Linked DNA regions of Homo sapiens: all the other regions are linked to region 2. The links come from fine-mapping of genetic effects on gene expression. A gene starts in region 2. Each other region holds a variant in brackets. All regions are shown on one strand. Distances are between the middles of the regions.

Region 1 (7,855 bases), 47 kb before region 2:
TGGAGGTTGCAGTGAGCCGAGATCACATCACTGCACTCAAGCCTGGGCAACAGAGCGAGACTCCATCTCAAAAAAAAAAAAAAGAGCTAGACACACACATTAAGTGTGACACCAGGCAGGCCGTCTCACCGAAAGGACTGGCAGGTAGTGTCTGACGAGCTGGCACAATGATGATAATAACATAAATAAAAAGTTCACATTTATCAACCATTTGCTACGGGCCAGGCACTTACATGGGTTATCGCATGCAATCCTACAACAACCCTACAACCACGTAGGCACTTCTGTAAAAACCTGCCTCTTACAGATGAGAGAATGAGGCCCAGCGTGGTTAAGTGATGTGTCCAAGAGCACACAGCAGTGAGTGACAGAGCAGGAAGCTGAATGGGCAGCCTGGCTCCAGAGGATGAATGAATACCAGCAGGGACGGGGATTTGGAGGGCTGGTGGTGGGGACGAGCCAGGGCATGGAGCAGGTGGAATCTGGGTGGAGAGGCAGTGTCCCTGCCCCGGCCCTGAGACCTGCCATTTAGGAACACTAAGGATCCATGTCTCTGCTAATACAACCAAGCCAGAGGTTGTTCTAAGTGTGCAAAGCCACCCCGGGCCAGGGTGGGTTGGAGGGGTGGGAGGTGGAGGCAGCCTGGGAATGGAATAGCTGGGAAGAGCTGTGGGGCAGTGAGGACTCGCTCCACCCCACTGGCCAGCCTGGGAGTCAGGATCCCGGCTCAGCCCCCTGCCTGAGTGTTGAGGGCAGGAAAACAGTGCATAGAGCGCTCCTAGCCCCACGGCTGGGTAAACAGCAGCGGCCACCAGTCCCATTAAGGGACCACACGCCCTCTCTCATGCTGACTAAGCCTTGCTGTCTTTGAGCCACCCGTGTGGCCATCATTTGCTGTGTTGGGCAACTCCGTATCTTTTAATGCCTGCGCTGGTAACCTGTGGCTCCCCCAAAACTATGGCTGGGCCCATAAATCCTCACCCGGCACCTCCAAGATGTCAGCCAGCCCCTGGGACACCCCGCTGAATTTACGAGCTCTAAAGTCCAGATTTGCTCTGATGAGGGAAGCAAAGGATCATGTTGCCCATCTGGGACCTGGTGCTCAGAAGCCATAAACCACGCTGGTGACAGCGCCATGACAGGTCGAGGGCCCTCGGCGGGTCATTTGCACGCTGGTTAATGGCCATGATGATGAGGCAGTAGCTGCTTGAGAACCCCTTGTGGGCCACTAATGAAGCTTTAAATCTGTCACGGGAGGTTAAGGGAGGAGGTGCCTATTTTATCTTCTTTTTGGGGTGTTTAATCCCAGCTTTTGTCTTTTTTCTCTCTTACTCCTTTTTGTTTGTTCTACCTTGGCAGGCGCAATCTCACCACGGCCCTCTGAACACACACGTCGAATTCTAACTTGAAGGCACTGGGGAGTGACAGCCACTACATTTCCCAATCTTTTTTTATTGTCTTTGGAACAATAGTCTGCTGTGTTCCAAAGCACACAGGCTCATCTCAGATGGGGCAAAACAGAAGGAATGAGGAAGTCTGCGGGGAGCAGCAGCTGAGCGGGCAGAGGAGAGAAAGCTGCCTGGGGGCAGTGCCCACCTGGAAACAACGATGGGGAAGTCAGGGGCACTAACGTCCCCACCGGTCCAGCCAGCCTTAGCATGGCCTCAGCCACCACTCCCTTGACTCCTCTCTCCCTGGACCCAAACCTCAAGCCCACAGGACTAAATAGCCATTGGAGAAAAGAGCCGGGACTAACTCTCTTGCCTTGTCCTGGGGCAAAAACTATCAAGAGTCTTAACCAAGGAAATTACTAACAACTAGTACTCTTATTTGATCTAAGACTCTGTGGGCGTGGGTGTGGATGTGGGTCTGTGAGAGAGGAAGAGAGAAACAGACAGAGACACAGATAGACAAAAAGAGAGAGGCAGAATTGAGGGCAAAAGAGGGGTATAAGAGGAACTATTTGTTGGCACAGGAAAGAAAGATCTAGCATCTCTTGGCAGGCTGTGAATACCCTTTAATTAAGTAATAAATTTGGAACCAGGGAAATAAGTATCAGTAGGGAAACACTCGGTTTAATTACCCATTCATCTGCTTGGCTCTGCCAGGGCGCTGCTGGGCCACTGTTGCCAAGACACACCAGCTCGTGGGCACTCGGGACTGAGGCTGCCCAAGCACACATTCCAGTTTGGTTCCAGCTCCTTCCGTGTTGACAGAGAGAAAGAGAAACAGAGGTTGAGCGAGACAGAGGCAGAGAGACAGCGACGGCACAGAGGAGCAGCTGTAATTCCATCAAAGGGCTCTGGGGACCCTGTAAGCCACCAGACACAACCAGAGTGGTTTGTCACCAGAGCCCCAGTGGAATTGACTCAGAAGGCATTGTTGCAGATTTTTCCAACGTGAAGCCAAAATACAGAGGCCGAGTGTGTTCTCGGAGCCGTGCGTCACTGCGAAGGAGCAAACCCGGCAGGGTTGATCCCGTGTTCACCTCCTATAGCCATTGCAGTGAGCAGTGTAGCCAGCCACACACTGTGGGCGCCTCCACCAGGAACTCAGAGCCCCGCAGAGGGCGAGGCAGTGTCCGGGGAGACAGCCTAGAAACCAGAAGCAAAAAGCCTTCAGGATTCTATTTCCACGTCCAGGGTAGAGCTGAAAGACCTGAGGCTCTGGGCCTAATTACAGAGCTTGGGGTCCTGGGTCAGTGCCACAGAAGCCACTCACAAGGCCCTCCCAAGGTGTCGTGCAGAAGGAGAAGGTGGGAGGAGCCGAGAGGAAGGGAAGACCCCCCTGAGCAACGTGAGACCAAGGCTCGTGAGACCTACACTGCCTTGTAGGTCTCTGGGGTCTGTGGCTTTGAGTTCGGCAGCATTTCTAGAATCCAAGAGAAGAGAAAAGTGAGGAGGCTTTGGGAGACAACTCTAAGGTGCCCAGGGGTGACGGAGGAGGTACTTCCTGACCTCCACCAGGGATCCCAAGCCTCAGTCCCTTGTTTCCAGGGCTTTCTCCCCACGTGGAGGATGGGGGGAGGTGTGCTTAATGGGATGGACCAAACCTTTCTTGCTTTAGCCTCTGATTCCTAAAATCTGCTCCTATAAACAGCTCTCGCCCAGCAGGCCCCTTGTGATGTGTCAAGAGTAAACGAATCTGAAACAGCAAAGGAGATCGCCTTCCAAATAGTCTTGACTTTAAGAATTAAGGCAAAGAAAGCATTTGCCGAAGGACGTTTCCAATTTGGCCAAATCCAGGGCTTTGGAAAAATATCTTAAGACATTTCACCAAACCCAGAGCAAAGCCGGCAGGGCCCCACTCTGGTCATTATGAGTTATTTGCAGCTTGTTTCTTGCTGAAATCATTTTCTTCTCTCTGCAGGCTGAGCTCTTCTGAGCCAGCTTGATTTCTGCAGCTGTTATGCACAACTCTTCGCCTTTACAACCTGACAGGCATTTGGAGACAGTGCTGGCAGGCAGCAGGAATGTGAGGGCCCCCGCTCCAGCCCGAGCCCTCAAGGACCCTGGCCCAGTCTCTTTGTGCTACAGAGGCATCCACCATAGTGCCCTGGGATGGCGTGCTCACAGGACGACACGAGTCGACATTCGCCCAAGCCAGGCATGGCCAGGCTGGCAAAGGCCTGCCTATCTGGGCCAGGTCTGTAGGGGAGAAGCATCTACGGGAGAAGGCCAAGTACCACGTGGTATCCAAGCTCTGACAGGCAGGGAGTCAGGACAGATGGCAGGGGCACTGGGAGAGGGTATGCGGGCACCTGGAGCTTCCGAGAAGAGCCTTAATGAACAGGCAGGGCTGAGAGGAAGTGTGGCTTGGTGGATGAGCAATGCGGCTTTGGCAGCCGATAGGGCTGGATTCGAAGCCCCACCTTGCCACTCACAGCAGTGTGGTCTGGAACCGGTAGCGTAAACCTCTGAGCCTTTGCTCCCTTGTCTGGAGGGCAAGGACCACCACAGTGCCCAGCCATAGGGCTCTCACGCTCCGAAAATCAGCTCCTGTGTGTGAAGTTTTCTCTACGTGAGTGGAGTGGCTCTTTAGGCTCCTGCTTGGTGTGTGTTTGTTTGTCTGTTTGCTTTTTGAGACAGGGTCTCTCTCTATCATCCAGGCCAAGGCTGGAGTGCAGTGACGTGATCATGGCTCACTGCAGCCTCAACCTCCCAGGCTCAAGTGTTCCTCCCACCTCAGCCTCCCAAGTAGCTAGAACTACAGGCAGGCGCCACCACACCTGGCTAATTTTTTTTACTTTTTATAGAGATGAGGTCTCACTATGTTGCCCAGGCTGGTCTCAAAATCCCAGCCTCAAGCCATCCTCCTGCCTTATCCTCCCAAAGCACGAGGATTACAGGTATGAGCCACCATATCTGACCCCTCTGCATCTTTTCTGCATTTCTTGATCCTCCCACCTCATCATATTTAGTCCCTCCTCTGTTACAGTTGTTTCTG[G/T]ACTTGCCACTCCCCTGAGCCTCATTCCATCCCACACGGGCCTGCCCATCCAGTAGACCCCACTGCAGCTCCTCTGACAGTCATGGCCATCAGCTTCCATGTTCACCCTTCACCCACAGCGCTGGAGGTCGCCTGTCGGGAACAGGCTCTCTGGAGCCCTCCACAAGATCCGGTCAACAGGTAAACAAATCCCCGGGAATGTGTCCTCTGAAACTGCCTCCTCTCCCTCAGTAATGTGATCCTAAAGGCCTGTCCCACACCTTTTTCTCCAACAGCGTGGCCAATTGAGAAATAGGGAGGACTTGAGGCCAAGGAAGGATCTAATTACCAACAGCTTATGCTCATAAGCCACCTACCCATTTCACCTTCCGCACCTCCTGCAAAAAATGAGAGTGGGGGCTGTTGAGAACCAGGGGATGTCTTTCTATATGGTTTGGATGTTTGTTTGTTCCCCCCAAATCTCACACTGAAATATGATTCCTAATGTCGGGGGTGGGGCCTGGTGGGAGATGACTGGACCACCAGGGCAGATCCTTCATGAATGGGTTAACGACATCCCCTTGGTGATAAGTGAGTTCTTGCTCCGTGAGTTCACATGAGTTCCGGTTCTTTAAAAGTCTGGAACCGCCCCCCAACCCCACTCTTTTGCTCCCACTCTCGTGCCTGCTCCCCCTTTACCTTCCACCATGATTGTAAGCTTCCTGAGGTCCTCACCAGAAGCCGAGCAGATGTTGGCACCATGCTTCTCATACAGCCTGCAGAACCGTGAGCCAATTAAACCTCTTTTTATAAATGACCCAGCCTCAGGTATTCATTTACAGCAATGCAAAAACAGCTGGCCGGATGCGGTGGATCACACCTGTAATCCTGGCACTTTGGAGGGCCAAGGCAGACAGATTGCCTGAGCCACAGGAGTTCGAGACCAGCTTGGGTAACATGGCAAAACCCCGTCTCTACTAAAAATACAAAAAAAAAAAATTAGCTGGGCATGGTGGCGGGCACCTGTAATCTCAGTTACTCAGGAGGCTGAGGCAGGAGAATCACTTGAACCTGGGAGGCAGAGGTTGCAGTGAGCTAAGATCGCACCACGACACTCCAGCCCGAGCGACAGATCAAGAGTCTGTCTCAAAAAAAAAAAAAAAAAAAACAGCCTAGCACACCTTTTCTCAAGAGCACCCACAAACACTTTTGTTATTACTTCTGCCTTGTGCACCTGTCAACACTTCCCAAGACAACAAACATAGAACGCTGGGGAATAAAACACCAACATGCCCCAGCACATTTATTTCCAGATGCCCTAGTGTGACTCTGCTTACAAAAGGGACCTTTTTCCAGCAGTCAAAGTCAGTCTCTGGGTGGGATCATGAGCCCACTCCTAGGCAGGGTAATGTGTTTACAGGCCAACACTGAGAGTTAAAAACTAGCCCTGGATCTAACAAATTGTCCTGACCATGCATTTGTTTTTTGCCTCGTTTCCTTCCCATGGCCCGACGATGGCAAGCTGCAGGTACATCTGTTCTGAAGAGCAGCCTCCCGCCCTTGGTCACTCTGTCCCGTGTCTCTCAGATGTTTAGTCCCGCGGACTGGGACCTGCTACACTTGGGCCAAGGCTTCTGGCTCCTCTCACTAAAGGCCTCAATTTAACTTAACGGACTAAATAAGGAACCATTTCTATATGATTAATTAATTAGGGTTCTGCTAGGAAGGATAATAATATAATAATGTAAGTAAGACTGCAAGGCCTAGCTACCAGCCTATAAAAAGAACACCAAGCACAGCACAATTAGGAAGACATTCAAGACGGAGGAAGCTCGGAGCCGTGGACTCAGCTCTGACTAATGCCAAGATTGGTTCATGGGGTTCAAATTCAGGGTCCAGCTGGCCTGCCTTAGAGAGTTACCTGACTTTTTTTTTTTTTTTGACAGAATTTTGCTCTTACTGCCCAGGCTGGAGTGTAATGGCATGATCTCGGCTCACTGCAACCTCCGCCTCCCAGGTTCAAGTGATTCTCCTGCCTCAGCCTCCCAAGTAGCTGGGATTACAGACATGAGCCACCACACCCAGCTAATTTTGTATTCTTAATAGAGATGGGTTTCCTCCATGTTGGTCAAGCTGGTCTTGAACTCCCGACCTCAGGCAATCCACCTGCCTCAGCCTCCCAAAGTGCTGGGATTACAGGTGTGAGCCACCGCGCCCAGCTGAGAATTACGTGACTTCTCTGAGCTGTTGCCTTCTTCTGAAAGATAGAAGAATTGATGTGTATTTGTCAGAGTATTGTGGAAATTCAATAAATGCAATATATGAAAATTACCCAGCACAAAATAGGCTCAAAACACCTGGAAAATATTGCTTAAGAAATTCCAGACCGGGCGCAGTAGCTCACACCTGTAATCCCAGCACTTTGGGAGGCTAAGGCACGCAGATCATCTGATGTCAGAAGTTCGAGACCAGCCTTACTAACAAGGCAAAACCCTGTCTCTACTAAAAATACAGAAATGGTGATGCATGCCTGTAGTCCTAGCTACTGAGGAGACTGAGGCAGGAGAATCACTTGAAGCCAGGAGGCAGAGGTTGCAGTGAGCCGAGATCACATCACTGCACTCCAGCCTGGGCAACAGAGTGAGACTCTGTCTTAAAAAAAAAAAAAAGAAAGGAAAGAAAGAAAAAGAAAAAAAAAAGAAAGAAATTCCAGTGCAGTAGCTGGTACTAAAGATGGAAATAAATGCAAAGAGTTTTGTGTAATGTGGTCCATTCTGTTTTATTGGCAAATGTCTTCTTTTTCTCTGCACTTTAATATGCACATTCACAAGTCCTTTGAAAGAAAGTGCATGAAAATTTAAAACAGATGTAAATTAAAATCCCAACAGGAATCATCTTCATTGATTACAGATGGATAAATAGTTGTTATTTACAGATGAGTCAAGGTGATCCTAATTGGTAGGTTTTCTGGTTGGTATTTGTATTTGAGGGCATTAGCATAGCAATTGAAAGCCTCTCGATGTCCCCTCTCCACGCCTCACCCAAGCCTCTTATCTCCTCCATGCTGCTCCTACTCTCTCCCCACCCCCCAAAAACATTCTTGGCCACTTCAGTACTCAAGGTCTCCCACCTTGGGTCCCTCAACTCTCCTGGAGCTAATGACCCAATTCCTCAAGGCCTTGCTAAATAACCTCTGCATCTATCTAACCCTTTTTCTGTAAAGAGCCAGATAGTAAATATTTTAGGCCATCTGTCAACTCTGCCACTGTAAGCTGAAAGTAGCCACAGACAATATGCAAATAAGTGAGGCTGTATTCCAATAAAATGTTATTTACAGGCCGGGCTTGGTGGCTCACGCCTGTAATCCCAGCACTTTGGGAGGCCGAGGCAGGCAGATCACGAGGTCAAAAGATCGAAACCATCCTGACCA
Region 2 (7,855 bases):
TGGGCCCAATTACACAGATTCATTTAGATACAGCATTTTTTTTTTTTAAGCCCCCGAGACGGGAGTCTTGCTCTGTCACCCAGGCTGGAGTGAAAAGTACAGTGCAATTTGCTAATGCACATCCTGCACATTTCTGGAGAATTATAATAAACTTATCTGCAAGTGAAGCAGGCCTCCTCTTCTGTAATCTCTCAAAACATCTGGAATATATTGCATATATTATGAAAGGGACATCTTTTTCACAGATGCCCCACCGTTACAACGTGTACCTTTGCTTAGTTTAAAAATTGACTTTAATACTTTATGCAAATAGTGCCTGTCCCAAATTCTAGCATGCACATGGATCTACCAACAAAAAAACTAAGTTTTCAGTGTGTGAACATAAACTTCAAATTAAACCTCTGATGCTTTAGCCCATGTATCAATTACCAACAGATTTTCTTCATCAATGTCTGCAGACCACATTCATGATTTCTATAAGACAGAAATAGAGCAGATAAACTATACTGTATATGCTGAGTACAGAATTTGTGGGAACATAATGCTGCAAATGAAAGCTACAAACACTCTGTAAATAGCTTAGAAAAACTAGTAATAGAAATCACCAAAGTACCAGCTAATAACGGTGTTATAAGAGTACACTGTTAACTGAAAATGAAAAAAATAAATGTATTTTTTGAGACAGGGTCTCGCTCTGCTGCCCAGGCTAGAGTGCAATGGTGCCATCTTGGCTCACTGCAACCTTAGCATCCTAGGCTCAAAGATCCTCCTGCCTCAGCCTCCCAAACAGCTGGGACTACAGGCATGCACCACCATGCCTGGCTAATTTTTGTATTTTTTGTAAACACGCGGTTTTGCCACATTGCCCAGGCTAGTCTTGAACTCCTGGACTCAAGCCATCTGCCTCATTACAGGCATGAGGCACCATGCACGGCCAAATAAAGCTCATTAATCTCCCATTTTCATGGGTTTGACATTGCCTATCTTCAGATTTGCTACTTTGAATTTAGCACATTATATACATCTCTAGACTTCCCAAAAAGTATAGTCTAAGATATAAGTGGCTAATCAGATTTGACAGTTGGCTTTCTGAAAGTTTTGTTCCGACAAACCTAGAATACTTACTTCAGGCTTTGCACCATTACTTGATACACCTATTCCACGGCTTGTTTCTTTGGCTGAAGGAACAGTTCTGAGACTAGCTGGCAAGTCAATGTTGGTTGTTCCTAGAGCTTTCGCTGCATTGGTTTTTGCTATTTCTAACAGCTCCATTCGATCTAAAAAAAAAAGAGAGAGATTTTAAAATACTCATTAATCTGGTAGTTATTTCCCAAGAGAACTCAGAATTACACAATAAATATGTTATTTTGTGGTATTAAATATATTAAGTCACTTGTTTTATAATAGGTAAACTAAGGTTGCCCTTGAACACTAGTAGCTGCGCTGGTCCACTTTATACTTGTTTTTTCTCCCCCTTACTAAATGCAGATAGAAAGTACCACAGTGTTTGAGAGACTGTAAACCCCAAGTGTGCGCGAGGGTTCCATATGCATCCTGGCACCAATCCCCCGAGTGAACAGAGGGACAACTGTGTAACTTTATTCACTGAAAATTCTATTCTCCAGCTCATTTCTTGCTGAAAAGAATAAAATTCTTAAATTATCTCAACAATTAGTTTTGTTTTCTTGACTAAAGGCCTGAGCGTCCTATTATTTTGTCTTTTTGTTGTACTTAATTTTCTCTAGCTAATAGTGATATTATTTTGCTTTCTCTTCAAAGATGTATTTCTGAAAACCAGGTTTTTCTGCTGTAGATTCTTTATATAATTATCACAACCACTGAACCAATACTGATACACTACTAAAGTGTATTTCTACCACCACCCCCGGCTAATTTTTGTACTTTTACTAGATAGTGAGCTATGTTGGCCAGGCTGGTATGGAACGCCTGGCCTCAAGTGACCCACCCGCCTCCGCCTCCGCCTCCCCAAGTGCTGGGATTACAGAGGTGAGCCGCCGCGCCCGGCCTCCTAGGTCACTTAGGATACTCGACAATCCAATTTTATTCAGTAATAATGTCAACTAAAAGAAGGCGTGTTTTGATATTGTTCTTCCCAATCACGTTAACTTAGAACCTTTAACTTAATCATAACATTTAAAAGGCTCCACCCACTAAGAACAGTCAGCCAATAGGAAAAAAAGTTCCCTACATCCTGAGCCATTTAACATCCAGTTGACCTTTAACCCTAAAGAGAATGCTGTCCACTTAAATACAGGTAATGTCCTCCCTCTTTCCTCCAAAAAGATTTCGGGCACTAAAGGAACTAATATTGAAACTACACAGCAACGTTGGTTCCCTAGCCTACTCATATACTGCCACCATACATTACCACAAATGGAAAGGTAAATGACCCACCCACCTTTTTCACTTAAGCGAAAGGGGGTTCTGCTCCGCGACCTCGTCCTGGATCTGTCCCTCCATCTGCTGTGCTCCTCCGGGTACACTGTGCGACCAAAGCCGTAGTAGCGCTGTCCCCGCGCGATCGCGTACGCCCTTCCGCAGTACGACCTTCCCCGAGAGCGCGACCTGCTACGGGACCGGGACCGGTACCGCGAAGGAGACCGGTAGTATCTCCTGGTGAACCCGTAGCGCCTCTCTCGGTAACGGCGGCTGCGGGATCGCGACCGGCTCCGCGAGTATGACCGCGAGTAGCGCCTGTACTTCCGCTGGTGGCGCCTTCGGGAACGGGACCTGGACTTGCTCCTCCGACTCCTGGACGAAAACCGGCTCGAGACGCGGGAATGGGACCGAGAGCTTCTGGAAAAAGAGCGGCTCCTAGACCGCGACGACAGCCGGCTGGACCCGCCCGACCGCGAGGTCGAGGGCGAATCCTTCTCCTGCGGCGAGCCCGGCCACATGTCGTTCACGTAGTTGGACATCTTCACCTGCGGCTTTAGCCTGCGCTTTCTCCGGAAAGGATCCCGCAAGCCTCAACTCAGGACTTCCTAAAAAACCAAGAGAGAAAAAACAAGTCGAGTCGCGGAAGCCGGCGCCTGGCCACCCGGAAGCCACAGTCGGGGAACCTCCGGGAGGCGGAGCCACGGCGCGGGCGGCGACCGCCGCGACAGGAACCGAGCCCTAGAAACCCCGCTCGGCGCCCTGAGGCCGCGGCCTTGAAGCGAAACGCTGCGTTCCCCAAACGCGGGGCCCGGCACGTTTCCCGTCCCTCACTCCTGAGAGACCACTGCGGTGGTCCTGAGAGACCCCGTCAGCAGAAAACTTACCGCACGCCGTCGACGCCTCCCTCACGACTGAGAGAAAGGCTCAACAGACGCCTTCCTTTCGGAACGTAAGACGAAGTGGGGCTTTTAGTCCCTGCTTTCGAACGGCGAATTCCACAACCTCCACCTCCTACGTCCGGATGCGCACTGAGGGACTACGTTAGCAGACGCGTCAAAAGTACCAGAAGCTGGCCCCCGGCGCATGCGCAGAGATGTTCCGTGGTGGGCGCGGCTCTTCTCTTGCCCAACCACCGCCCTGCCTCCTCCCTCCCCAAGCCGCGCCCTGTGCCTCGAGCGCTTGCCTCCAGGGTGCGCATGCGCGATGGGGCTCCAGGGGGAGGTGTTTGATACATCAGGGTGTCCCGTTGCCCTTGGCTTCCCCCCTGATCTGAGATAATTGCGGGACCGACCCAGTCACCAGAAAACTTCGAAGATGGAACGGCCCCGCGTGGGGCTACACCAGGCTCTGGCCTCACTGCACGGGCGGGGCTGGACGTCAGTGCCGGGCGGGGAGTAGGGCCGGGAGAGGAGCGGCTGCAGGCTGGAGAGGGCTCGCAGCCGGGCTCGGAGCTGGGGCCGTCTGACGGGCTGGTGCCCACAGGGTCGTTGCCGCCACCCACCGGCAAGTCGCAGACCCGGCCTGAGCCTCCCTGGACCCTTCCTGGCCTCTTCCTCCTGTCCTAGGTACCGCGGCGCCAGGAGAAGGCGACCGCGTCCACACCCCGCCATGACAGAGAGGGGACCTCACCCTCCCCCGGAACACCCCAAGACCCCTGGAAATGCAGTATTAACGTAGAAAAGATGTTTTACTTCCATGTTTTGGCTAGGAAGGTAATAAGGTCGAGACAAAATAAAAAGACTCAAAACTGACCTTTAATCTGGGGATAATAATGAAGTCTGCGATATCTCTTCCAAAAACTGTGTTTGGTGTGAGTGTAAACAAAGGTGACTATTTTACTTCTAGGGATCTACAAATGGGATGCATTTCAAACACTTCTTGTAATAAAGCATAACAATTGCCTTGAAAATTGTGGGTTAATTGCCTTTTTTTTTTTTTTTTTTTTTGAGACAGGGTCTCACTCGCCCAGGCTGGAGTGTGGTGGGGCCATCACGGCTCACTGCAGCCCAGGCTCCCGAAGAGCTGGAACTACAGGCATGCACCACCATGCTAATTTTTGCACTTTTTTACCCACGGGATCTAACTGTGTTGCCCAGGCTGGTCTCCAACTCCTGGGCTCAAGCGATTCTTCCGCCTCAGCCTCCTGAAGTTTTGGGATTACAGGCGTGAGCCACTTTGCCCAGCCTATACACTTCTTTACAAGTACATTTTGACAAAAGCCACTTTCTTTAGAGGGAGACACAAACTCACTCATCTCTTGTTCATCTTCACCCCACATCTCCGCAGTTCATCCACATCTCCTGAGGATGCATCATGATGGAAGTAGTTCTTAAACAGTTTCTTCTCTAAATCTCAAGACAGTGAAGATACAATGCCCATCCATCAGAAACCTTTGCCGAAAGTTCTCATAAAGCTGTGTGAGTGGACAGAAAAATAACACGAGGCCAGTCGCGGTGGCTCACGCTTGTAATTCCAGCACTTTGGGAGGCCGAAGCGGGAAGATCACCTAAGATCAGGAGTTCGAGATCAGCCTGGCCAACATGGCAAAACCCCATCTCTACTAAAAATGCAAAAATTAGCTTGACATGGTGGCGGGCGCCTGTAATCCCAGCTACTCGGGAGGCTGAGGCAGGAGAATTGCTTGAACCTGAGAGGCGGAGGTTGCAGTGAGCTGAGATTGCAACACTGCAACCCAACCTGGGCAACAGGAGCAAAACTCCGTCTGGAAACAAATAATAATAATAACAACACGAGTTTCACATTTGACAAGTATAAAAATGATGTGTTGGGGAACTAAAGTATACTTACGATACAGTTTTGAGCTCTTGGTTATGAATAGGAAAGGATGGAACAAGTCTCCGTAGACAGTTCAAAGTATCAGTCAATGTGTGCCTAAAAAATGGTGACCAGAAAAATCCTAATTTTTTTTTTTTAAGACAGTCTCGCTTTGGCGCCCAGGCTGGAATGCAGTGGTGTGATCTTGGGCTCACTGCAACCTCTGCGTACTGGGTTCACACAATTCTTGTGCCTCAGTCTCCCGAGCATCTGGGTTTACAGACGTGCACCATCATGCCCAGCTAATTTTTTTTGTATTTTTAGTAGAGATGGGTTTTCACCATGTTGGCCAGGCTGGTCTTGAACTCCTGACCTCAAGTGATCTGCCTGCCTCGGCCTCCCAAAGTGCTGGGATTACAGGCGTGAGCCACTGTGCCCAGCAAATCCTGGATATTAACAGGATTTTGGAAACAGTGGGAAACATTACTTTGCCCTCGTGCAGAATGCTGGTGTATTTGTCTCAAAAACATACGCGGTCTACCTGAGTTAAAGTCTGCAAAGTCACCTTCCTTTATTTCTCTAAACAGTATATATTCTCTGAGCATCTATCCACTCACCTAATGAAAAAAATTCAACTTTAGTTATTAGAACATCTAGCACCGAATTTGTAGGCTAATGTAGGCAGAAATAACATCTTTACAATAGCAAATCTTCCCATCTAAGAATGTGACAATGTTGTAACCAAGCGAGATAGAGAAACGCCACACTTGGAGACAAATTGTGGAGTCCTTTATTAGCCGGCAACCGGGAGACAGCTAGCGCTCAAAATTCTCTCGGCCCTGAAGAAGGGGCTAGATTTTCTTTTATACTAAGGTCTAAATAGGGGAGGGGGGTTTAACTGAAGCAGTTTTACAGAAGCAGAATAGGCAAAAAGTTAAAAAAGTTAATTGGTTATAGAAGCAGTTACAAAAAATAAACAGTTCCAGGTACAGGGGCTTAAACTATCACTAAGAGATAAATGCGGGGGCTTTAGGTACCTTCCACCGAGCACATTCCCAGGAGCTGCTGGTACAGCTTGCCTCAATATCTTATCAGCAGGTGAATTCCTGGATGTGCTTGGAGTCAGCTTGCACTAGTTACTCCCTTAGGGGGATAAAGAGGGCTGCAAGCAAAGAAACTAAAATGGAGTCTGTCCGGCTCTGTCTGCTAGGAGAGAGTCACTCAGGTTTAAACAAGGTAGGGTATCACAACAAGTTTTAAATGTGCCATTTAAGTTGGTTTTTTGTTTATGTCCTTCATTATGGTTGGCAAACCAATCGCCTCCCAAACATGTCCATTCCCTAATTTCCTGGAACCTGTGAATATGTTACCTTAAGGTGACAAAAGGAATTATGCAGATGTAATTAAGGTTAAGGATCTGGAGATGAGATTATTCTGAAGTATCTGGGTAGGCCCAATCTAATCTCAGGAGAGAGTCAAAGCATGAGAAGAATTCCATGCCCTGTTGCTGCTTCTGAAATGTAGGGGCGGGCCAGGCGCGGTGGCTCACGCCTGTAATCCCAGCACTTTGGGAGGCCAAGGCAGGCGGATCACCAGGTCAGGCATTTGAGACCAGCCTGGTCAACTTGGTGAAACCCCATCTCTACTAAAAACACAAAAATTAGCCGGGCGAGGTGGCGTCCGCCTGTAATCCCAGCTACTCAGGAGGCTGAGGCAAGAGAATCACTTGAATCCAGGAGGCGGAGGTTGCAGTGAGCTGAGATCACACCACTGCACTTCAGCCTGGGCAACACAGCGAGACTCCAACTCAAAGAAAAAAATAATTAAAAAAAAAAAAGAAAGAAAGAAATGTAGGGGCTTATGTGCAAGGGCAGGGAAAGAACTCTAGGGGCTAATGGTGGCTTCCAGCTGACAGCCAGGAAACAGACCTCAATCCCACATCATAGAACTGAATTCGGCCAACACATGGATGAGCTAGTGTTGGGGATCTTCCCCTAGAGCCTCCAAAAAGAAACAAAATGTGACTGACACCTTGACTTTAATCTGGTGAGACTCCTCACCTATAGAACTATGAGATATTAAATTTAGGTTGTTTTAAGCCACTAACATTATGGTTATTTATTACCACAGCAATAGGAAAATAAAACATTCAGTATAATTTATAGTTTTCCTTTTTTTTTTCTTTTTTGAGACGGAGTTTCACTCTGTTGCCCAGGCTGCAGTGCAATGGCTTGATCTTGGCTTACTGCAACCTCTGCCTCCCGGATTCAAGCAATTCTCCTGCCTCAGCCTCCTGAGTAGCTGGGATTACAGGCTTGTGCCATCATGCCTGGCTTATTTTGTATTTTTAGTAGAGACGGGGTTTCTCCATGTTGGTCAGGCTGATCTCCAACTCCCAACCTCAGGTGATCCGCCCACCTCAACCTCCCAAAGTGCTGGGATTACAGGCGTGAGCCACTGCGCCCGGCTCAAAGTTAATATTTTTGTTAATTTTAATGACAAAACTAATTTTTTATCAGGTAAAGGAATCCAAAGATGTATACAAGCTAACGATCATTCCCTAGAGGTATAGAATCCTCTAAAAGAGGTCTCCATCCTTCTTCCTCATATCTTAGAGATAACCAATGTTAACAGTTTAACGAGTGCCCTTCCACAGTTTTCTTCAAGACATGTCAAATAT
Region 3 (7,855 bases), 290 kb after region 2:
CGTCTTATGCTCGGCATAGCCACACCCGGAGGGGTGCGGGAGCCAGGTGGCTCAAATGAGCATGTTGTTCAATATTTAGCAGTTTTGCAAGATGGTTATTAAACTTCTGGTAACTTGAAATTGGCCGTGGTGGGTGTATTTGCATCATGGAAATTGGCAAACAGTACAAATCAGAAATTGGGTTAATCAGCACGCCACCGACAAGGTAGCAAGCTGCCAGCACCATGGGGCAGGGAGCACCCAGAGACCCACACTCAACGCATGGCTCTGTGCGAGCCCTGGGCTGGGCACAGGAAACATCTAGGCAAATCAGACACTCTCAAGTACGCCTCCTCTCAAGTAGCAACCAGCCTAGTAGGGAGACAGAAAAGCAATGTGGAAAGTTATGAACCAAAGGGATACCATTGACAGCAGCTGTCGTATCTGAGGTCTCTACCGTGTGCCATGGTGCTGGAAACTTTTCACGTATCACCTCTAGACTCCACTGCACAGACGGGAAAATGAGGCTCGGCAGTATTAAGTCACCTGCCCAGGATTGTGCAGCTGGCAAAGTCAGGTCTGAAGCCCACATTGTTCTGACTGCTGAGCCTGTAGCCTTAACCATAGCGATGTCCTGTCCCCACACATGCTCCATGTGAAGTATGGAGAAGGGAGCAACCCCACCTGGGGTGAGTGCTGGAGTGGCATTGGGAAAGGCTTCCCAGGATTGGTGACATTTAGTCTGGGCTTTGAAGGATGAATAGGAGTTTGCCAGTTGGAGGGCAAACTGGAGAAAGGCATTCCAGGTAGAAGGAACAGCAAAGGCATGGAGAAGTAGGAGGACACAGGAAGTTTAGGGGAAGGGGTTACAGGGTAGTATCACAAGGCTATGTGGCTGGGGAGGACGAGGGATGGGAAGGTGGGTGGGGACTTCAGTGAGAAGGGCCTCGAAAGCCAGGCTAAGGGGTTTGGTCTTTATCTCACAGGCTTTGGAGAAGTTGAAGGTTCCTGGAAATCAAACCCTGGAACTATATAGATATTATGGCAAGATTGCCACCAATGTCTGTTTTATGAAGTCCACTAAGTAATGCTTCTCGAAGCATCAGTGGAGCAGGACCATTTTTAAAAGAATTTCTCTTCTGTCACAGACCAATGCTTTTGTAAAATACAAGGAAAACGAATTACTAGAAAAATACAATAAAATGACGAAAAACACAAGCCTAATTTTAAAAATGAGATTCAACAGACATAAAATTACTCTATCAAATTGCTCTAAAAGTTCTCAACCCTTAATATCTACACTCTCTTTGATAGCATTGGGCTTGTCCAGAGGTCTCTTTATAGGCCCAGATTCAGAACACATGCAGGTTGTCCTAGTAAGAGCTAAGTGCTCTCAGGCGAGTCCCATTTTAGAGCTGAGGAACCTGCTGCATGGAGACGGTAGGTAGGTGGGCTGCCCACGATCACACAGCTGCTGAGTGGGGCTTGGGACTCAAACCTGAGGCTGTCTGCCTTGTACTCAACCAGTCTGGAAGGTGCAGCAGACCCCTTAGCAGAGTCCTCTTTGGCCTGGCCCCTTCACTTTGTCCCTCCTCCTACCTCCTTTCAGCACAAGGTCAAGATCCCTGTAGACAGAAAAAGGGAAATAGAGCCAACTTAAGAAGGGAACTTCCTTGCCCAAAGTGCCACTGCAAGAGGGCGGCAGAGGTGGCCAGCCCCCAGGTCTCCTGACACCAGCCTGTCCTCAGTCACACCACTCTGCCTGCCTCCATGTCTATGCAGTGACCTCCAGGCCAGACAGTGCCAAGGAGGACGAGGGAAGCGGGGGCAGGAGGCAGGGGACTCATCAATTGCTGGCAATTACACGGTGCTTTGTCATTCTTAATTAGCTCAGTGGCTCCACAGCCTAGAGATCTCCCTGTGGATGCTAGGCTGGGGGAGGAGACAGCTGCTGGTCCCACCACGGAGGGCTATTTGGAGGGGTAGGTACCGAGGAGCTCCCCTCAGCAGCACCTCCCCAGCCCCATTAGGGGCTGCTGTTTCTCATCCTTCCTCACCCACTTGCCAGACACTATAAGAACCAGAGACAGAAATTAAGCCATTGGATGTGTATGGGGCATCTCCTTTGTGCCAGGCACTGGTCAGCAGCTCTAGGAGCCCCTGGAATGAATGCTGATTTCCAGCCCCCATGCTTGAGGCACGCCCAGCTGCTGGAAGAGGCAAACAGGCTCACCATAATCATGATAATGATAACCAGAGTTACCCTTTAAAAAAAAAGTTTATCTTCATTTTTATTTCTTTGAGACAGTGTCTCTGTCGCCCAGGCTGGAGTTCAGTGGCGCAGTCTCAGCTCACTGCAACCTCTGCCTCCTGGGCTCAAGCGATCCTCCCACCTCAGCCTCCTGAGAAGCTGGGACCACAGATGTGTGCCACCATACCCGGCTAATTTTTTAAATTTTGTTTTATAGAGACAAGGTTTTGCTTTGTTGCCCAGATTGGTCTTGAACTCCTGAGCTCAAGCGATGATCCACCCACCTCAGCCTCCCAAAGTGCTGGGATTACAGGCATGAGCCACCGTGCCCAACCCTGTTACCATTTACTGAGCGCTCGCCACACGCCTGGCACTAGACTAAGCATTTTCCATATATTATCCCACAGAAGGCTTACAAAGCCCTCTAAGGTAGGTATTATGCCCACTATACAGATGAGGAAACTGAGGCTCAGAGATAGCTAAGGTTACATATACATACATGGAGGATTTGTTTTAGAGCCAAGGTATGTGGAGCTCCAAGGTCTAACAGTTGTTTAGGAGTGTGTGTGTGTTGGGGAGAGAATACTGGTGTGTGGGTGGCTGTGATCATGGGTGTTAGGGAGGAGGCCAAGTAGCTGTTCAGGGCAAAGGTAGAGAGGCCAGGAGAGTTGAAGCAGTCTGGCTGGATGTTCCTGGAAGAAGCAGCTGCATGGGAAGGGTCTGAGGGAGGACGGGTTCAGAGGCAACTGGTTGGGGTGGTCAGGTCAGCGGGCACAGCAGGCAGGAAAGGCCCTGCATTTGGGGTAAAAGGTCAGAGCCCTGGGGCTTGTGACTCACCGGTAAGTAACCCAGGCTCCCTCTGACTCCCTAGGAGAGTACTGTCTCCGACCTGGGCCCCAGCTAGGATGGGGCAACCCTACCCTGTCCATTGAAGGTGTGATGTTAGCCTGCCTGCCCCTCAGACTGGGCTATGCTGGTTCCAACCCGGAGAGAGAGCTCCCTTCCCTGGGGACCAGCCAAGAATTATGATATTCATAGGTACTCCAGCCATGTCATCTTCATTGTTCACCCAGTTAGGAAAGCAATTTTAGTTTTATTAAAATATGCGGCTGGGCATGGTGGCTCATGCTTGTAATCCCAGCACTTTTGCAAGGCCGAGGCAGGCGGATCACGAGGTCAGGAGTTCGAGACCAGCCTGATCAACATGGTCAAACCCCTGTCTCTACTGAAAATACAAAAATTAGCTGGACGTGGTGGTGGGTGCCTGTAATCCTAGCTACTCAGGAGGCTGAGGCAGGAGAATCACTTGAACCTGGGAGGCGGAGGTTGCAGTGAGCCGAGATGGCACCACTGCACTCCAGCCTGGGCAACAGAGCTAGACTCCAACTCAAAAAAAAAAAAAAGATGGAGCTAGACTCCATCTCAAAAAAAAAAAAGTGTATATATATATATATATATATATGCAACATATACATCACTTACTATATGCCAGGCAGAATTCTAAACATGTCACAAACATTAACTTTTGTTAATGTCCCAGCCTGTAGGTGGGACTACAGGCGCCTGCTACCACACCCAGCTAATTTTTGTATTTCAGTAGAGAAGGTGTTTCACTATGTTGGCCAGGCTGGTTTCAAACTCCTGGCCTCAGGTGATCCACCCACCTGGGCCTCCCAAAGTGTTGGGATTACAGGCGTGAGCCTCGGCACCCAGCCTACATTAACTTTTAATCCTCATGATGACTCCATGAGGTGTAATCCCCATTATTCTAGTCTATTCAGGCTGCTCTAATAAAAATACCAAAGGCCGGCTGCCTTATAAACAACAAAAATGTATTTCTCACAGTTGCAGATGCTGGGAAGTTCAAGTTCAAGGTGTTGGCATATTCGGTCTGGCGAGGGCCGGCTTCCTGGTTCATAGATGGCTGTCTTGTCACTGTAAGAGTGAACAGGGCCAGGAATCTCTCTGGGGTCTTCTTTATGCTCATCCCATTCATGAGGGCTCTGCTTTCATGAAAGGATTACCTCCCAATGGCCCCATCTGCTGATACCTTGAAGGTTAGGATTTTGACATACGAATTTTGATAGGACAGAAACATTCAGTCCATTGCACCAATTTTACATTTTAGAGGAAACTGAGGCCTGTGGAATTTAAATAATTTGCCTAAGGCCATGCAGTAAAGAAATAGGGAAGCCTGGATCCCGGGATGCAGCATCAGTGTGCTTCACTACTGCGCTCTGGTGTCTTCCACTAATAACTCCCATTTTACAGATGAAGAAACAGAGGAAGGGATTGGCTCAGGGAAGTAGGGAGGACAGACCACCTGAGGAAACCAGGGACTCTCATCCCAGCTTAGGCTTTTGTCTTGGTCCCACTGCAAGCCCAAATGATGGCTGGAGAGAGGCTGACAGCCCTGTCAACTCCTTGGCATCCACTATCTCGCTGGGGTCCTGTGGGTCCACTGAGGAAGAAATTAGTAAGATTGTAGCTGATGCCATTTGACTAAAGACAAAAGCCATTTATTCT[T/C]ATAGGTAGCTCCCCGACCCCGTTTATTGTTCTTTTTCTGATTACTAAAGGAACATGATCACTGCAGAAATGTTTACAAAGTTAGAGCAGATAAACAGAAAACCAAACAAAAGAGAAAAGAAAAATCCCCTTTCAAGCCCCTCTTGAATCTCAGGACTTATTTTTTTCTTTTCTTTTCTTTTCTTTTTTTGAGACGGAGATTCGCTCTTGTCGCCCAGGCTGGAGTGCAGTGGCGTGATCTCGGCTCACTGCAACCTCTGCCTCCTGGGTTCAAGCGATTCTCCTGCCTCAGCCTCCCGAGTAGCTGGGATCACAGGCATGCGCCACCACGCCCGGCTAATTTTGTATTTTTAGTGGAGACGGGGTTTCTCCACGTTGGTCAGGCTGGTCTCAAATTCCCGACCTCAGGTGATCCGCCTCAGTCTCCCAAAGTGCTGGGATTACAGGCACGAGCCACTGCACGCGGCCCTACTTCTTTGCCTCCTCCTCGTTGTTATAAGCATCCAAGGTGGGAGGCAGGAGACCTGGCATCTGTTCCTGGCTTGCTGTGTAACCTTGCGTAAGTCCCTGTCCCTCTCTGGGCCTTAGGCTCCTCATCTGTGAAATGAGGGTTTGGCCACAGTGACCTCAGAGGAGGCCACTCGCAGCTCTGACCTTCTGTTTCTGCTTCTGTTTCTGGGATTGGCAGAAGGGGCACTAGCAGGCTGCCCCTCTGCAGGGGACACATGGCTGACAGCTCGCAGCAAGCCATCTCCGGGAAACTGCAAAGGCTGGTAAACAGTTCTCGTTGCACACGCAGCGTTCCCAGGCCTTCCTGCTTATCAGGCCCATATGGTGCCCCCTGCCAGCCGGACACCACCAGCTGCCCTTGGCCAGTCTGCCCTGGGTGATCACTTTTCCTCCCTGCTTCAGAATGCTCTCTCTACTATTCCAGAATCTAGCTGGCTTGGGATAAGTGAGCTGGGGGCACTCAGCCCTGTGGACCCATCTACCTATTGCCACAGCCCTTTTGCAGAAGGCAGCCTGGTTTGGTGAAAAGCTGGAGAAAGGGAGAAGGGGAGGAAAGGAGGGAGGAAGGACAGGAACACTGACTGTGTTCCAACTCCATTTGGACCCCTTACTAGGCATTTGGGATTCAGAAATGAATCAGAAAAACTTCCTGCTTTTGGAGGGTACAAAGTCTAATGGAGATGAGAGGAGTATAAACAGGCAGCAGTAGTGCTTGCAATCCTGAAAGTTCAGGACTGTGGGCGCCCACAAAGAGAAACTTAATCCATGGGTGGTAGTCAGGGAAGCCTTCCTGGAGGAGGCAACTTTAAAGGTGGGTTCTCAAGAACAGGATTCAGCCATTCCAACTCCTGTTATTTAGTCCTTAAGGACAGCCCTGTGAAATAGATATAGTTGTCCCTTTTACAGATGAGGCTCAGAAGGGTGAGTTCACAACCACCAGAAGGACAGCTGGGTTCTAACCCCTGGCATTATACTCTACCCCATTGCCTATGGGCCTGAGTCTGATCCCAGTCTCTGACTCTCGGAGACTATCAGTGAATGCTTCCCTCCCTGACCTAGGGCTGTCATCTGTAAAGTGGGTCCACCTAAGCAGTGTTGCTGGGGAAGCCAAGGACAGACTGGCTAACAAAGCACTTGGTTTATAAACAGGGGAATGTCAGTGAGGCCGCCCTATCCAGCTGGGGACAGCACAGCACTATCTTTCTCCCGACACAGAGAGGACTGCTGGCTTCTGAGCCAGGAGTAATTACAGAGGTTGAAGTTGGCCTTGCCTGAGGCACCCCCTTCTAAAAGAAGCCAGGCTGTGGCTTGGATGTGTGTGTCCTCCCTCTGGCTCCTTTTGGCACAGTTTGAAAGGAAGGCATGGCATCCTAGAGAGTTAGAACAAATCCTTCCAATCCTGGAGTTAGAACATCTGTGCCTGAGCAATTCTGGGGTTCAGACTGCCCTCCGAATGCTCCTAGGAAGCAGCTTGGGGTCAGGGTCAAGGTCATGCAGATTCTTGACCCTGGCAGGTTGGAAGGATCACTAGAGATAGCATTGACTCTCATTCACAGATAAACAAGACTCAGAGAGGGGAAGTACTTGCCTGAGGTCACACAGCAAGTCAGTGTCAGGGGCACGTTCCAGATCATACCATCTGTGAGGCTACCTGGGAAGTTGCGGGGGCATGGGGTGGCCCAGCATGCTCAGGTGGTGCCAGGGAGCAGCCTGGGAGCTACGAGGATGAGTAAAGTGCCTGGCTGGACTTGCTAAAGGCAAATTTTTATATACCGACCCTGCGCCTAACAAGGGTCTATACTGCAAGCTTGTCCAACCTGTGGCCCACTGGCCATGTGAGGTCCAGGACGGCTTTGAATGGAGCCCAACACAAATTGGTAAAGGTTCTTAAAACATTATGAGATTTTTTTGGGCAGGGTGTGGTGGCTCACAGCCATCCCAGCACTTTGGGAGGCTGAGGCGGGCAGATCACTTGAGGTCAGGAGTTCGAGACCAGCCTGGCCAACATGGTAAAACTCCATCTCTATTAATAATACAAAAATTAGCCAGGCATGGTGGTGCATGCCTGTAATCCCAGCTACTCGGGAGGCTGAGGCATGAGAATAGCTTGAACCCGGGAGGTAGAGGTTGCAGTGACCCGAGATCGCACCACTGCACTCCAACCTGGGCAACAGAGTGAAACTCTGTCTCAGGGGAAAAAAAACAATACAGAAAAACAAAAAACATGAGTGTGTGTGTATATATATATATTTCAGCTCATCAGCTGTCGTTAGTGTTAGTGTATTTCATGTGTGGCCCAAGACACTTCTTCTTCCAATGTGGCCTAAGGAAGCCAAAAGTTTGGATATCCCTGGCTTACAGCCTCCACTATTTCCTAAGTCTCCCACTGCCCTGGACATCGCATTGCTTTTGTCCCTGAACAAGATCTTTCACCACTGGAGGAGCCCTCAGTCTCCCCATCTGTAAAATGGTCACTGGAAATCCTAGGCCGCTGCTCTCAGGCCCTCAGGCCCCTACGGGGTGGGGATTGGGGAAAAGGAGGAAAGCGGGGGCGTCTAGGGCTTGCGATTTGCTATCTTCTGGCGCCTT
Region 4 (5,000 bases), 130 kb after region 2:
TGCCTCAGCCTCCCAAGTAGCTGGGATTACAGGTGCCCACCACCACGCCTGGCTAATTTTTTAATTTTTAGTAGAGACAGGGTTTCACCATGTTGGCCAGGCTGGTCTTGAATCCTGACCTCAGATGATCTGCCCACTTCGGTCTCCCAAACTGCTGCAATTACAGGTATGAGCCACTGCACCTAGCCACATATTTTCACCTGGCATATAAGTAAAACTGGCTAATTAGCAACTCCCCTAGATTTTTTGCTTTTCTATTGTATTGCAAGAACAGAAACATACTTTTCCCCTTTGTTGAAAGATCTCCAGTGGCTTCCCATCTTTTATAAGGGCCTGCTCCTCACTACCATTCTGCCCTCAACCCCTGCTGCTCCTTCTCACTCCATTCACACCAACCACACTGGTCTCCTTACTGTTCCCTCAACACACAAAGCATGCTGCTGTCTCAGGGCCTTTGCACTTGCTATCCTATTTTCATGGAATGTTCTTCCCCTAACTAAATGCATCGCATATCTCCCTCCTCTTCATTGGGGTCTCTGCTTAAAAGCTAACTACTCAGATAAGCTTTCCCTGACCACCCCCCTAAAAGAACACCCCATCCCACATTGACTCTATGTTTCTCTAGTTTGCTCTGTCTTCACAGCCACTTCTTCCCATCTGGCGTAGTAGACACTTATTTGTCTATTTATTGCTAATACCTTCCCCCACTAGAAGGTCAATTCCATGGGGTCAGGGAATTTGTTTTGCTCACTGCTGTGTCCCCAGTGCCTGGCTCATAGTGGATATTGAATAAATATCTGTTGAATAAAATAGTATTATGGGTGTCCTCAGAAATAAAAGGTAGGCTTTTGGGTGTAAGGATTTTCTCGGGCTTCTGTGCAAAACTGAGTGTGATCACCAGCCCTGGGTTCAAAAGTCTGCAACGTTGCCACTCACCCTACTTATAACCTCAGGGATGTCCCTTCCCTGCCCTGGCCTCACAGTCCACATTAGCAGCAGGTGACCTCTAAGAACCTTTCCAATTCTGAAATTATGTGATCCTCAGGGAAGGAGATGGGGCACATAGACATCCAGCCACACGGCAGGGTGCGCTCTGGACGTGGGTGCTGTGTCCTGGCAATGGTGGAAGAAAGGTGGCCTCACACTGACCTGTCAGGAGACCAGACGTGAGAGCTATCACGATGGCCAAGCTGAGTTCCCCAATGCTGAGGAGGACCTGGAAGCCAATCCTAGAAATGACAAAGCAGAGGTGGTCACTTGGGCATCAGGCAGCAGAGGTCATCAGGGACAAAAAGGACTGTCGGTGTCAGTAGTGCCATTGCCAGGAAGGGCCATGAGGAAAACAAGGGTCCTCTCCCTGGCTGGTACATTCCCCTGGCATTTTCCCAAAAAGCCACGCAGACATGTGGGAGGGAGGGAGGCGACGGAGATTCCAAGATTGTGGCTTATTTTAGTTCCCAGCACCTCATGGATAATGAACCAGACCAGGAGTCAGAAAACCCAAGCTCAAGTCCCAGCTCTGTCACTTACTAGCTGCAAGACCCTGGGCAAGTCCTTTAACCTCTCAGAGCCTCCAGTTTTCTCTCTCTCTCTTTTTTTTTTTTTTTTTTCTGTTTTTGTTTGTGAGATGGAGTCTCACTCTGTCGTCCAGACTGGAGTGCAGTGGTCGGCTCACTGCAACCTCTGTCCCCCAGGTTCAAGCGATTCTTGTGCCTCAAGTAGCTGGGACTACAGGCATGCGCCACCATACCTGGATAATTTTTGTATTATTAATAGAGACGGGGTTTCACCATGTTGACCAGGCTGAACTCGAACTCCTGACCTCAAGTGATCTGCCCGCCTTGGCCTCCCAAATTGCTGGGATTACAGACATGAGCCACCACATCTGGCCAGCCCCAGTTTTCTCGTTAGGCAATTAAAGATGAAGGTTCTATTTCTCTTGGGGCAAGGTGGGTGGGGTAGAGCTTGGCTTTCAGACCCATCTCCCCTGCCCATCCCTACCCCTTGAACATACTTCCAGGATCTCTCTCCTTCAAGGCAACCCCAGGGGTTCAATTCAAACATTAAGCTATTACGGGGGCCCCTGGATGCTGAATGTGATTGTCCCAGGGTTCAGCATGCACCTGGGCACTGCCAGCCCGTTCACTGCAGCCCCACGGATAGTTGTACACAACAAGCCAGTTTTTTAAGCCTTTCCTATTTCTTGTCTCAACAGGTGGGCAGCTCATGTTCTCATTTTTAAGACAAAGGAAAGCTCCAAGCCTGCAGCCTCATGGGGTGGACCCCACCTTGTATGTCATTTGGTTATCTTCCCTGTCTTTACTGATTGTTCATTATAAAGTGGGAGAAATAATCACAGTCCCTACCTCATAAGATCATAGGAGAGTGGAGAGAATTAAAAAGAATTACCTGCAGACTAGAAAAATAAATTAAGGCCGGGTGTGGTGGCTCACACCTGTAATCCC[C/T]GCACTTTGGGAGGCCGAGGCGGGTGGATCATGAGGTCAGGAGATGGAGACCATCCTGGCTAACACAGTGAAACCCCTTCTCTACTAAAAATACAAAACATTAGCCGGGAGTGGTGGCAGGTGCCTGCAGTCCCAGCTACTCAGGAGGCTGAGGCAGGAGAACGGTGTGAACCCAGGAGGTGGAGTTTGCAGTGAGCTGAGATCACGCCACTGCACTCCAGCCTGGGCAACAGAGCAAGACTCCATCTCAAAAAAAAAAGAGAAAAGAAAAATAAATTAAAAAGATAAAAAGAGTTGCCACCCTGCTGCTCTTGTAGGGAGTGCAGATGTCAACAACTACCTGCCCAACCATTCAGGCAGCCATCCCCCCTTCCGTGTGGCAAGCTCCAGGCCCTCATCTTTGCCATCTTTGTATATATTCAATAGTTTGCTTCCTCCCCAGCTCCAAACACAGTTCAGGTTATCAAAACCTCAGGGAAATGTTTGTTGAATGACTGAAAAATGGAGTCAATTACTCAATTCATTGATCTAAAATTAAGTGATTTTTAGAAAAAAATTCAGGGGGACATATGCATGACCTTGCAAATTTCTTTTTTTTTTAGATGGAGTCTTGCTGTGTCACCAGGCTGGAGTGCAGTGGCGTGATCTCAGCCTCCCGAGTAGCTGAGACTACAGGCAAGAGCCACAACGCCCAGCTAATTTTTTGTATTTTTAGTAAGGACAGGGTTTCACCATGTTGGCCAGGATGATCTCGATCTCTTGACCTTGTGATCTGCCAGCCTCAGCCTCCCAAAGTGCTGGGATTACAGGTGTGAGCCACCGAGCTGGCTGCAAAAATTCTTAAACAGGACATAAAAGAACTAAGCATAAAGGGAACAATGATAAATTGGGCTATATTAAAATTAAGAACCTCCTTGTTCAAAAGACACCATTAAGAAAGTAAAAGGTGGGCTGGGCATGGTGGCTCACACCTGTAATCCTGGCACTTTGGGAGGCCAAGGTGGGCCAAAGTTGAGGCTAGGATTCAAGATCAGCCTGGCCAACATGGCAAAACCCTGTCTCTACCAAAAATTATTTTGTCTATACAAAAATTCGGTGGGCATGGTGGCATGCACCTGTAATCTAAGCTACTCAGGAGGCTGAAGTATGAGAATTGCTTGAACCTGGGAGGCAGAGGTTGTAGTGAGCTGAGATAGCGCCACTGCATTCCAGCCTGGGTGACAGAAGGAGACTCTGTTTCAAAAAGAAAGAAGGAAAAAGGTAAGCCACATAGTGGGATTCATATCCAGGATATGTAAGGAATTCCTAAAATCAATAAGAAAAAGACAGAACACCACAATAGAAAATGGGCAAACTAACTTGAATAGACATTTCACAAGAAAAGATATTCAACTGTCCAAAAAGCATATTAAAAGTGCTCCATTTAGTTAGTTATTGGAGATATCAAAATGTAAAAAATAGGTTTCACTGCTAAATGACTAATCAAAAAGAAGGAAAACACCAAGTGTTAACAAAATGTGGAGTAAAAGGAGCTTCTATACACTACTGGTGATTAGATTGGCGCAAACTACTAGAGAAAACTGTTTAGCAGTAGCCACTAAGGCTGACTGTGTGAATACTGTATAACTCAACAATTTCACTTCTAGGCATATAATCAACAGAAGTGCATTCGTGTGCTCCAAAAACAAAAGTGCTAGAATGTTCAGAGGAGCAATACTAGAATATTCATAATAGCTCCAAACTGGAAACTACCCAAATCCTCCTCAATAATGGATAAATAAATTCTGCTGCATTCACACAATGGAACACTTGTTCCAACTATCTTTTCTTAGATTCTCGATTTGTCTATCCGGCATTCATTTATGACAGGGCCACACTAATGGCCAAAGTTGTTTATCTCGTTTTCTTGCAAGTCAGCTTTCTCAGGCATGGGAAACTCATATTATAAACCCCTCAGCTACAAATTCCAACATATGTGTTTTCACTTCCTGCCCATTAGTGGATGCCCTCACCCAGTTACTCTCCCACCACTCTTTTTCATAAAGGCATAGGCCCAGTTCCCCCTCTCTTTCTGCTGCCTGGTCCCTGGATGACACAGTTTTGTGTGGCCCTGCAAGACGTGTTCTGCCTCTTTTTTACAGGGGAACTGTGAACAACAAAACTTTCCTTCCAATAATACTGGAAGAAAATGCCACTCAGTCACCTTTATAAATTAAGACCCAAGCATGACAGAACACTATATCCCAGTGGAAAAAAAGTACAGCAATGCTTAACAACCTGGATGAATCTCACAACTACAATGTTGAGTAAAAGAAGCATACAAAAGCACAGACTTACTGTATGATTCCATGTATATTATCTCAGTTCACTTTCTGTTGCTATAACAGAATACCACAGAATGGGTAATTTATAAAATAATTATATATAGCTCATGGTTCTGGAGGCTGGGAAGTCTAAGAGCATGCTGCTGGCATCTGTTGAGGACCTTCTTGCTGTGCCATAACATGGCAGAGGGTATCACATGGCAAGAGGGCA

Evidence for each region.
Region 1: its variant is fine-mapped to the expression of RSRP1 in whole blood (INTERVAL, PIP 0.98).
Region 3: its variant is fine-mapped to the expression of RSRP1 in whole blood (INTERVAL, PIP 0.93).
Region 4: its variant is fine-mapped to the expression of RSRP1 in whole blood (INTERVAL, PIP above 0.99).

The regions. Positions count from the first base shown.
Region 1 is chr1:25,196,650-25,204,504 of GRCh38, forward strand. No RefSeq gene overlaps it. Among named protein-coding and RNA genes, the nearest start is that of SYF2, 32 kb to the right of the region's middle. RefSeq lists an enhancer at 2,401-2,900 and a silencer at 4,966-5,140. The variant G/T (reference allele first, on the strand shown) is at 4,447.
Region 2 is chr1:25,244,025-25,251,879 of GRCh38, forward strand. It overlaps RSRP1 (arginine and serine rich protein 1), which reads right to left and starts at 3,430. Exons shown (of 5, transcript NM_020317.5): 1 at 3,285-3,430; 2 at 2,420-3,005; 3 at 1,126-1,277. The coding sequence starts at 2,939. RefSeq lists enhancers at 2,221-2,945, 2,946-3,670.
Region 3 is chr1:25,535,591-25,543,445 of GRCh38, forward strand. No RefSeq gene overlaps it. Among named protein-coding and RNA genes, the nearest start is that of LDLRAP1, 4.1 kb to the right of the region's middle. RefSeq lists an enhancer at 7,686-7,745 and a silencer at 7,846-7,855. The variant T/C (reference allele first, on the strand shown) is at 4,757.
Region 4 is chr1:25,374,200-25,379,199 of GRCh38, forward strand. It overlaps RHCE (Rh blood group CcEe antigens), which reads right to left. Exons shown (of 10, transcript NM_020485.8): 8 at 1,150-1,229. Among named protein-coding and RNA genes, the nearest start is that of TMEM50A, 38 kb to the left of the region's middle. The variant C/T (reference allele first, on the strand shown) is at 2,466.